Homo sapiens: one gene and its partners. The gene in region 2 interacts genetically with the main gene of each other region. Each region holds a gene or a part of one and is shown on either strand. Other genes may lie near its edges. The genes, in order: MED23, PNISR and AURKA.

Region 1 (3,656 bases), about 32 Mb from region 2:
ACAATAGCATAAACCACAGGGTATATTTAGATACTAGAATAACATGATAAACTATAAACTATCTTTCATTAAATATTTACTTCTTCAGATTATGAAGCAACAATTTAGCATCACATATCTTATAATCTAGGTTGAAGACTGTCAGATGGACTAAAAGTGCCATTATATTTAGCAACATACCTTATCATATGGCAAAAGGCCTTTCAAAGGAAAACGAAGAGTAGCAGGATCCAGTTTCCATGAATTACAAATGGCACCCGAATTATTTACAACTGGCAGAAGACTACAGCGACCTGTATGTATTACAAAAATGTTTTTAAGTAAATGTGAACACAGCAGTACTTCATTCACTTCACAAATATTTAATGAACATATATGCTGAAATAGGCATTGGTTTGGTTTAAAAATGGCTTATAAAAATGTTTCAATGAGACTGAAGGTTGGGAATTTTATTTTTAGTTCAGATAGTTGAAGATCAATTTGCACAGGCTTTCCAAAGTTGAAAATATCGCATTTTGTCTAAATGTCTAGGGCAGAGATCAGCCAACTATAATCCATGGGCCAAATCCAGCCTGGCACCTGTTTTTGTAAAGTTTTATTGGAACACCACTGCTTTTGCAGTCCAATGGCAGAGCTGAGTAGCTGCAACAGATTCTGTAGCCTACGAAGCTTAAAATATTTACTACATGGCCCTTTACAGGAAAAAGTTTAAGACCACTAGTCCAGTGTCAACATGATTAAACTTTATGCACGATATTCCTAGAGGCCTTAGATGTCACATATGACTATCAGCTCATACATCCAACTGCCTAACAAATATCGTCACTTGGATGTCCTACAAGCACCTCAAGCTTAACATGTCTCAAATTCATCATCCTTCTCCAACCTACTTTGCTTCCATAATTCACTACATGATATCAATATCCACTCAGTTACAAAAGCTAGAAACCTGATAATTATCTGTCTAGTGTCTATTTAGATTGTATTTGTATTTTCAGTATCTAGAATAGCACCTGGCTTATAGGAAGTACTCAATATTTGATCACTGAATAAACAATGGTCTATATTTCCACACAGTTGAGGTCACCATGATTTCTAGAAATAATTAAAGAGGATATGTGGGCACTGCAAAAATTGCCAAATCACATGGTTATTTTTAAAAGAAAGTTCAGAGACTCTAACAAAACATGGGAAAATGCGAAAGGAAAAGCAAAAGTGGGAATTAGAATGGGCTGAGTGAGCCTGACACTTTCACGTTCTGTAGCCACAGAGGGACAGGTCTGTTCAGACTTCCAGCTGCCTAGAAATTCCATGGTGCTTTACTAGCTGTATTAAAATGTCTTTCTAATCACCAAGAAACCCACTTCTAGAATGGTTTTAAATGAAGCTTAAACCCATTCCAGAGAGTTTCTTTTTCCTCCCTGTACTTGGCACACAGAGTAAGTGAAAACAAGGGAAAGGCATTATATTAAGCTCTTAGAGAGTCACCAAAATGACAAGCCACCAAGGCACATATTAAGAGAACATCCCTCAGCTTTGTTCAATAATTAGATTACTAAAAATCAGGTACTATTTGGCATATTTAAAATTATAATCCTACCACAAATGGAGTTTATCCTTGCTGTGGGCCTGAAGGTATCCACAAAGTCTGATACTAGGTTTCCAAGTAACTAAAGAGAGAAAGAAAGAGGGAAGTCAAATAAATACGTACAAAAGGAAAATTGAGACTGCCCCTGAAATATATGAACATTTATATAAAATGAGATAATATATGTAAAGATTGCACATGATAACTGTTTAAAGGTTAGCTCCCTTTTGCTTCCTTCTAAAAAATCACTCGCCAGTTCATCTGTCCCTTAATTAAACCAAGTCACACCACCATATCCTTAGCTATTTGATGAAGCTGATCATATTTTATTACATGGCATATAAATTCTCAATGGAAATGGAAATGAAAGAAATACATCATGATTAAAAATATACATATTATCTAAGGATAAAAGTCATCATTAAAAAAATAAGCACACAAAAATAAGATTAATATAACTGTTTTTTATAAAATACCCTTTTTTGTGTGTGAGACAGGGTCTCGTCCTTTTGCCGAAGCTAGAGTACAGTGGTGTGATCACAGCTCACTGCAGCCTCAAACTCCTGGTTTCAAGTAATCCTCCCACCTCAGCTCCTGAGTAGCTGGGGCTATAGGCATGTGCTACTATGCCTGGCTAATATGTGTGCGTGTGTTTTTTAATGTTTTGCAGAGACAGAGTCTTGTTATGTTACCCAGGTTGGGTCTTGAACTCTTGTCCTCAAATCATCTTCCCACCTTTGCCTCCCAAAGTGCTGTGAGCCACGAAGCCCAGCCGAAAATTTTTATTAAAAATTCAGGAAATATAAAATTTACCCAGTGTGGAAGTTTGCCTTCAGGATACAGTTTCCTGATCTCAGTGACTGCAAAATAGGCTGGTAATAAGCAGGCATTTCTTTCCAAGATATATGCTATAACCTAAGAAAAACAAAAAGGCCACATCATTCTTGACTAGTCCCACATATAAGCCCTTTATTTTATTTATTATCATTATTTTTTTTTTTTTTTGAGACAGGGTCTTGCTCTGTTGCCCAGGCTTGGAGTGCAGTGGCGTAATCATGGCTCACTACATCTTCAACCTCTGGGGCTCCAGTGGTGTTCCCACCTCAGCCTCCAGAGTAGCTGGGACTATAGGTGTATGCCAGCAGGCCCGGCTAACTTTTTAATTTTTTGTAAAGACAGGGTCTCCCCAGGATGTCCTGGCTGGTCTCTAACAATGGGCTTAAATGAGCCTCCCGCCTTGGCCTCCCAAAGCACTGGGATTACAGACATGCGCCACTGCATCTGGCCCATGTGAGCGTTTTAAACACTACAATGACAATGACAACAAAAAAGACATTAAAAAGTAGAGATGTTACTTTCTGGAGAGATGTTGGTCAAAGGACAAAATTTCACTTTGACAAGAGGAATAAGTTCAAGAGACCTACTGGACATTATGGTGACTATGGTTAATAACGATATAGTGTATACTTCAAAATTGCTAAGAGAGTAGATTTTAAGTGTTATCATTATAAAAAAATAAGTATATATAATATATATACACACACACAGACAATTGCTACTTGTCAATTAAAATAAAATATAGAGATATTATTTAATGGATTTATTGGGTTTCAACTGTAGCAAAGAATACATTTATATGTAAAAAATATCTAAAAATAAAGATTAATAAACAATGGAATGGATTGTTCATGGTTAGTAAATAACCTTGCACATGCTTTAAATATTGGCACACTTAAACAGGAGTGCAACAGACCAACGTAACAATTCTTGCGATACTAGTTACAAAGTACAAAGATCTTTTAAGTGGTCCATATGCTAAGGTCTTGTAATGTTTAAGCTATTTTAATTTCTATTTCATTGTTTTCATAATTTAAAACCATGAATTAAAATTTAAAATGTCCTTTTGAAATATAAGGGAACTAGCATCTTTTAAAATAGAAGTGATTTTTTTTTGGTAGAAGAAATAGAGCATCTCACAAAATACCGTAAGTATTAAAAGCACAGACCTAAACAAAGCTAGACTTTTTTGAGGTTATGATCACGAATTTCAGACATGTCTAAATTACCT
Region 2 (3,656 bases):
TCCAAGCGGGAAGAGTCCTGCGTTTTACTGCGTCTGTTTCACGTGGGAAAAATATACGCAAGTCAGTTAAGTAAAATATTTCTACAAACTTGTGAGTAAATTTAAAAAATATCCCATTAAATATCATGCCTTTCTTCAATGCCATCACTTTTAGTAACAGCAGGGACCACTGCTCTAGTGCTTACAATCTGCCAGGACACAATGAAAGCATGTTAAACCATCATCTAATTTAATCCTTACAAAAGCCCTCAGAGATCACTACTATTACTCCACTTTTTTCCACAGGTGAGGAAACTGAGACTCGAAAAAATTAAGTGATTTGCTAGTAAGTTAAAAAAGGAGTAAAGTTAGAATCTTCCTAAAATGTAAAAAGTAAAGATTTATTAACAAATGCTCCTGTCCATTAAATACTGAACAATTTAGAACTTTCCAGATATAAAGTGGCATAAATATGTATTTGTCACTTGAAATAGGCTGGCTCTATAATGTTATTTAAAAAATTGAAATTTTCTGCCAAAATACTTAAGGGAAGTGAAATAACCAGAGGAAAATTAATCTGACAGCAGTGCATCAGATGAACTAAGAGTGGACAGAGATTGAACAATTAGATTTAAAAGGAGAAGGGCTCATATATCTGTATAATGTACTGAAATGCCTACACTGAAGAAAATACCAACATGCTATGGCTAGCATAAATTTTCACTTCATCACAAAATCTGGAATTTAATGTAAAGGTTTAAATAAAATTATTTAAACCTTTTAATTTCAGACCAGTATCATTTTTGTAATTTTAAGCTTTATGACCATAAAAAATAAAGTGTCAATTCCTAACACATCAGAGATACTCAAACAATTTTAAGAAAACAAGACATCCTTTTTATATGATAAAAAAGTCATGCCAATTGTGGTCCACTAAACTAAGTTAAATAGCTACCAATTTGTGGAGGCTCCTGCTTCACAGGAAGTGCAATAGGTGAACGCTGACGATCCCTGAATGATGATGGCCTTTCTCTTCGATTCTGGGGAGGTGCTGGAGGTCCTGGAGGTCCTGGTTGCCAATAAGGAGGATGAAATCCACCTTGCGGTGGACCAAAAGCAGCCCCATGCTGAAAGAGTATTGCAGTTTATTTTTTCTTCAAATTAATACAATATACTCTCTGGGACACACGTGTGTTATGAACTGGGACAGTAGAAATCCATGTGTGCAGCACATCCAAGAATTCCATGGCTCTAATATCCACCGATACTTCTATGGTCCCAAGAACCTAGGCTTACTTGTCTTAAGATTTTCCGGCTATGTAAATGCAAAGAGGCTTCTAAAAGCCAGCTGATAAGCTACTTTCAAGAAGTATATGAAATTTTTCATTCTGAATCCATTTACAAGCTAATCCTACCAACACTAAGACATCAAATAGATACTAATTTCTCTTTAACTAGACATTTTTGTCAATTTCAACATCCTACTTACAGTGAACAAAAAGTGAACTAAACAACTTAAGCTGTTTCTATAATCTTGCAGATATATTCATTTATAAGCAAAGATAGAAGTTAATGAATCATTAAATATTTTCTGCAATTTTGCTATTTTCAGAGGCTTTTCTAGGCCAGCTGCCAATACAGCTCTTTGTCTTGTTTACATGGGATCTACCATGCAAAAGTAGGGTAAGCAGATGCTCCCTGCCATTATATTTCTTCAAACAACATAAAAACTGTTGTATCTGTATACCAAGTATACAAGTATCTGAATATTTATTAATGAGAGGATTACCATCTCAAGGTGAATACTAGATGTCCATTATCAAATCTACCCTAGAATTCATGAAATAATTCTTTCAAAATTTTAAATTATGATAGCAGTTTATAAGTTAATAATTGCAATCAGTTATTTCAAAATGACACCTAGCACTATAATTTAAGGGTAGACCCTGGCAGAGGGAATGAAGTAAATAAAGCCCAACATACAACACTATTCCCCACAGAGTTCTATGTCCCTAGGAATGAATTGGATGCTACAGAGGAAATTATATACAATTCCATTAACATGTCATGTCAGAATGGAAAAAAAATGACACTAGAAAAACAGTCATAATTCTACATAGCACAAGGAATTACACTTAGGAAAATGATCTATATTTTTTATTCATGTCTTAACCATGAGCTATATTCAATTACTGTGCATTCTCTAGTCTTTAACATTTAAATATACCATTTTGAAATATAAATTAGAAAATAAAACATCATATAGCTATTGCACTTATACATTTTTAATTTTTTCAAAAGTTTTCCGTAATGATCTTTTATACCATTTTCCTAATGAAATAAAAAAATCAGAAAACAAATTCTAATTATTTTAATACTCAAAAATTGATAACTGAGACAGAATGTGCTTATTTATACAAGTCTGAAAAGTGAAACACGTATCTTAGGTATTCTTGATGAGACACTTCCAAAGAATGGATTACGTGCACATCTACAATATTAAAGCAACAAAATATCTTTCACCTGATAGTCAAACTGGTTCACTGGCCCCACTGCAAAATTATCGGGTGGTCCACCAAAGTTGTGATTGTTCTGGTTAAATATATGCCTGTTGTCAGGGGCAAATTCCCCACTGTCCTGACTGTTGCTGTCTTCAGAAGGAGGAACAATGTCCATTGGGCCTGGTGTTGGTGGCATCCATGGCTGATCTGGAGGGGGGTGTGGGGGTTGCTGATGCATTCCCCATTCTATTTAAGATTTAGGCATAAAAACATTCAACAGGCGGTTATAACAAAATCAACACAGAATTTTAAGATCTCAAGAAAGATTTTTCAGTAAACATACAGATTTAAAAAACAACTTATGACTTCTTGGTCAAATTCCTTTTGTTTATCTTAAAAATAAGCAATGAACTAAACTGTCATATATAATTCAAAATGAGCTAACTCCACTCTAATTCATATCCTAACCAAATGCCCAAAGTTATTTTTAACAAATGTAACAAAATCCAAAGCACTATTTTTGTTGAATTTTTATATTTGTTTAGTAACAACACCACAAAAATAATACCTTGAGGTTTTATATAATTTCTTTCTTACACGAACACATTTATCCTCACAACATCCCTGTGAGGTAGGGAGAAATTAGGTATTATTTTTGCCAATTTCGGGAGGGAAAATCGAGGCACACAGAGGTAAATCACTTGCCCAGGGTCACAAAGTAGAGTAAAACTAAGGGGTAGGGATGCCCGCGGGAGTCATTTAAGAACTTAAACTTAGGAACTAAAACATTTTCAAATGTGGGGAAATTTCACTTTCAAGAAAGCTAGAAATGAACCACCTCACAGTATCAAAGACTAGAATATTTATGTTTTTAAAAGTAATCTGAATTCTCGTTTTTTTTGTTTGTTTGTTTTAAATGAGGGACTCATTCTGTCACCCAGGCTGGAGTGCAGTGGCGTGATCACAGCTCATTGCAGTCTCAATCCCCTAGGCTCAAGCAATCCTCCCACCTCAGCCTCCCAAGTAGCTGGGACTACAGGCATGCGCCTCTATGCCTGACTAAGTTTTAAGGTTTTTTTTTTTTTTTTTTTTGTAGAGACAGGGCCTTGCTATGTTGCCCAGGCTGGTCTCGACTGAGGTCTCCATTCTTATAAGGAGAAACAAAAAGTATTAATA
Region 3 (3,656 bases), on a different chromosome or scaffold from region 2:
TTCTCCATGTTGGTCAGACTGGTCTCCAACTCCTGACCTCAGGTGATCCACCTGCCTCGGTCTCCCAAAGCGCTGGGATTACAGGCGTGAGCCACTGCGCCTGGCCTTCCACAGTAAACTTTCTAAAAGGCAGAGTTCCCTTCTGAGTTCAAAAAAGCTTCAGTAGCTTCCAAATGCCCTAGAGATGAGGCCCCATTCCTTAACATGGCCAGCAATGCCCATGGTGACCTCACCGCAGCCTGCCTCAGTTCACCCACTTCTCTGGATTTCCCCCACACTTTAGATCTCAGTCCCTTCAAGTCACTTACTGCAAGCACCCTACATCCAGACTCAGTAACAAGCAATCAAAAGGACACCAATTTATGCTGTGTCCTCCCTGGGTGCCCAACTCTTCCAAGAGGGTGAGAATCAGGTCTGTATTTTTAGCATAGGTCTGGCCCATGGGCAGACACTGTTACTTCAACCCAGACACCATATTTTCTCCCCATCCTCAACAGATATAAAAGCTAAGGCTCCAAACAATAAGTGCAAGTATATACACTGGCTTTTTTAGCAACGACGACAAAGAAGGACTATCCAATGAGTCTCAAAAGCTAGTTTACCAGGTGCCGATGGCAGGGGCTGCTTGCTCTTTTGGGTGTTATTCAGTGGCCTGGAGACAGGATGAGGTACACTGGTTGCCTGCAATTGCTTCTGCTTCTGATTCTGAACCGGCTTGTGACTGGAGACAAGCTTTTGTGCTTGCAAAGGAATGCGCTGGGAAGAATTTGAAGGACACAAGACCCGCTGAGCCTGGCCACTATTTACAGGTAATGGATTCTGACAAGGAAATTGCTGAGTCACGAGAACACGTTTTGGACCTCCAACTGGAGCTGTAGCCTAGAATGGAAGAGAAAATAAACTTTCTGGCATTCATGAAAGCAAAAGATGAATATATTGAGAATTTCACAAAGTTTGTTCTCTAGTATAGCAAAATAATGAATGTCACTGATAAGAGATGGAAGGTGAAAAGGTATTTTAATCAGTACCTCCAGAGGATAGTTAGTATGTGGCTAAGAATACCTGAATGATACCTTCTATCCCCTCCAATTCCTCACCCCTAAAAATCATGCTTTATTAACAAATATCCATTAATGAAGGAGACACTTTCTAAAATTTCTCAATAATTTGGAAATAGACACTACATTGCTATTTGGCAAAAAGCTATGATACAAAAACTTTATGCCAAAATCTCAGTTCCATTGAAATTTCTTTGATAATATACGTTTAAGAAAAAGACCAAAAAAAAATACGTCAAAACGTTCAACAGTGGTATTATCTTCATGAAGTTTTAGAAGAGTCTAAGTTTTCATATATCGAAGATTTTCCACAATAAGCTTATTACTGTACTATTGATTAACCAATGTTTCATTTTCCAAGTATTGACAAAATGGAATTGAGCAAAAAACTGACAAAGAGGAAACAAATGTAGACACTTCACAAAGTTACTACTAAAATGTATTATTATTATTATTTTTGAGATGGAGTCTTGCTCTGTCACCCAGACTGGAGTGCAGTGGCATGATCTCGGCTCACTGCAACCTCTGCCTCCCAGGTTCAAGCAATTCTCTGCCTCAGCCTCCCAAGCAGCTGGGACGACAGGCGCCTGCCACCACGCCTGGCTAATTTTTTGTATTTTTAGTAGAAACAGGGTTTCACCATCTTGGCCAGGCCGGTCTTGAACTCCTGACCTTGTGATCCACTCTCCTTGGTCTCCCAAAGTGCTGGGATTACAGGCGTGAGCCACCGCGCCCAGCCTTGAAATGTATTATTTATACGCCTGTAAGTACTGTATTACAACCTTAAATTGTTAAGTTAACTCTAACACCCTCAGCTAATCAAACTAAAAGGGGTAGGAGGGATGAGATTTCCTTCAGCTTCAACAGCTCATTGTAAGTGAGGGACAAGTGCTAGAAATGAAAGCCTCAAAGTCCATCCCCAGCTCAACGGTATGAGTGCTCTACAAAGAGAGGGTGTTAAGACTTCCAAATACAAAGTCAGTTACTCCTGAAATTAGCACACTGTCCACAACGCAGCAGGCATTCAGACAAAGACAAATAAAAAGAAACATTTTAAATATAGAGCAATTTTTTAAATGGCCGTTATCATAGGAACTTAGAATCAAATACAGTAATTCAAGGTAGCCTTTTTCTAATTATTTTATATTTATGGCCAATTTTAAAAGTTTTGAACTCCTGCCAGATGCATTATTACTATTATCCTGCATACAGTGGAGGGATATAGAAACTTAAGCAGCCGATTATAAGACAAAGCAGAACAAAAAAGCTACTCTAAGAAGCAGCAAAATGTTACTGAACACGAGAAAAGTGACTAATTCATATCCAGGATCACAGTAAGGGATCTAAATTTAAATCCAAAGTAAAGGCGGAAAGAATTCCCGACAAGACCAACCTCCATGTGGGTTTATAAATGTGAATGAGATTACAGATTATTCAATTTACCTTAACAGGTCCTGAAATGCAGTTTTCTTTAGATCGGTCCATGATGCCTGAAAAGAAAAAGAAGAACCTTTAATTTGAACAAAGCCACCTGCTTAAAGTGCTGTTGCTCGATAGGCAGCGTTACAGTTCCCCAATCAAAAGGCCTCCACAACACACCGGATTTTACATGTTTTGTCCAAATGAAGCTAATGAGGGAGGGACAGGCATGTGCTTTCCCTGCAAGGCCAACCTCCCCTTGGGCACTGCGTCCCATCCTCTGTCACGGAGTCTTCACTCCTGATGGTCTTGCTGCTCCATCATCTCTCCTCTAATGGATCACTTCCATCCCTGTGCAGCCTACTGGCATACCTGCTACCTTAAAAAAGTCCTCTTTAGGCCGGGCATGGTGGCTTACACCTGTAATCCCAGCATTTTGGGAGGCCGAGGTGGGCGGATCACCTGAGGTCAAGAGTTCGAGACCAGCCTGGCCAACATGGTGAAACCCCGTCTCTACTAAAAATACAAAACTTAGCTGAGCGTGGTGGCAGTCACCTGTAATCCCAGCTACTCGGGAGGCTGAGGCAGGAGAATCACTTAAACCCAGGAAGCAGAGGTTGCAGTGAGCTGAGATCACACCATTGCACTCCAGCCTATGGGAAAAGAGCGAGACTTCGTCTCAAAACAATAAAATAAAATAAAAGTCCTCTTTATTCTATTATCGTTGCTAACAATGACCCCCTCCTCTCCAACAGCAAAGCTCCAGAAGAACCGTCCACACTTGCCACCTCTACTGCTCCTCTCCCCTCCCCTGAGCCCATCCCCACCTGGCTTTTTTGTCTCCACCACATTGTCAGGCTCATGGCTGACACCTACTGCTGCCAAACCCAAGGGTCAATTCCACCTTCCCCGTACTTGCATCCTCAGCAGAATCTGACAAGGTTGATCACATCTTACACTTTTTTCTTCACTTCACTTCCAGGTTTATCTACCACCTAGTCGTCCTGTCTTTCCCTCCTTGCTGGGTCAGTCTCATTTTTGCCAGATCAAGGGTCTGGGGTGACTCAAGAACGAGTCCCTGGACCCTCCACTTCTCCATCTACACCTTCACCAGGGATCCATATCACCCAGTGCCTCAGCTCTAAATGCCTTCATGAGGACCACTCAAAGTGCGTCTTC

The links.
Region 1: changes in PNISR (region 2) and MED23 together harm fitness more than expected from each alone (negative genetic interaction), as found in Homo sapiens cells (one large-scale study listed by BioGRID).
Region 3: changes in PNISR (region 2) and AURKA together harm fitness more than expected from each alone (negative genetic interaction), as found in Homo sapiens cells (one large-scale study listed by BioGRID).

The regions. Positions count from the first base shown.
Region 1 is NC_000006.12:131,618,227-131,621,882, forward strand, and holds part of MED23 (mediator of RNA polymerase II transcription subunit 23), read right to left. Parts: coding exon 3,655-3,656; intron 2,504-3,654; coding exon 2,402-2,503; intron 1,671-2,401; coding exon 1,601-1,670; intron 294-1,600; coding exon 181-293; intron 1-180. UniProt on the Homo sapiens protein: Required for transcriptional activation subsequent to the assembly of the pre-initiation complex. Component of the Mediator complex, a coactivator involved in the regulated transcription of nearly all RNA polymerase II-dependent genes.
Region 2 is NC_000006.12:99,408,239-99,411,894, forward strand, and holds part of PNISR (arginine/serine-rich protein PNISR), read right to left. Parts: exon of another isoform or gene 2,727-3,656; coding exon 2,503-2,726; coding exon of another isoform or gene 2,479-2,502; exon of another isoform or gene 1,108-2,478; intron 1,107-1,107; coding exon 935-1,106; intron 34-934; coding exon 1-33.
Region 3 is NC_000020.11:56,385,655-56,389,310, forward strand, and holds part of AURKA (aurora kinase A), read right to left. Parts: intron 3,131-3,656; exon of another isoform or gene 2,755-3,130; coding exon of another isoform or gene 2,658-2,754; intron 2,549-2,657; coding exon of another isoform or gene 2,544-2,548; coding exon 2,502-2,543; intron 880-2,501; coding exon 603-879; intron 1-602. UniProt on the Homo sapiens protein: Mitotic serine/threonine kinase that contributes to the regulation of cell cycle progression.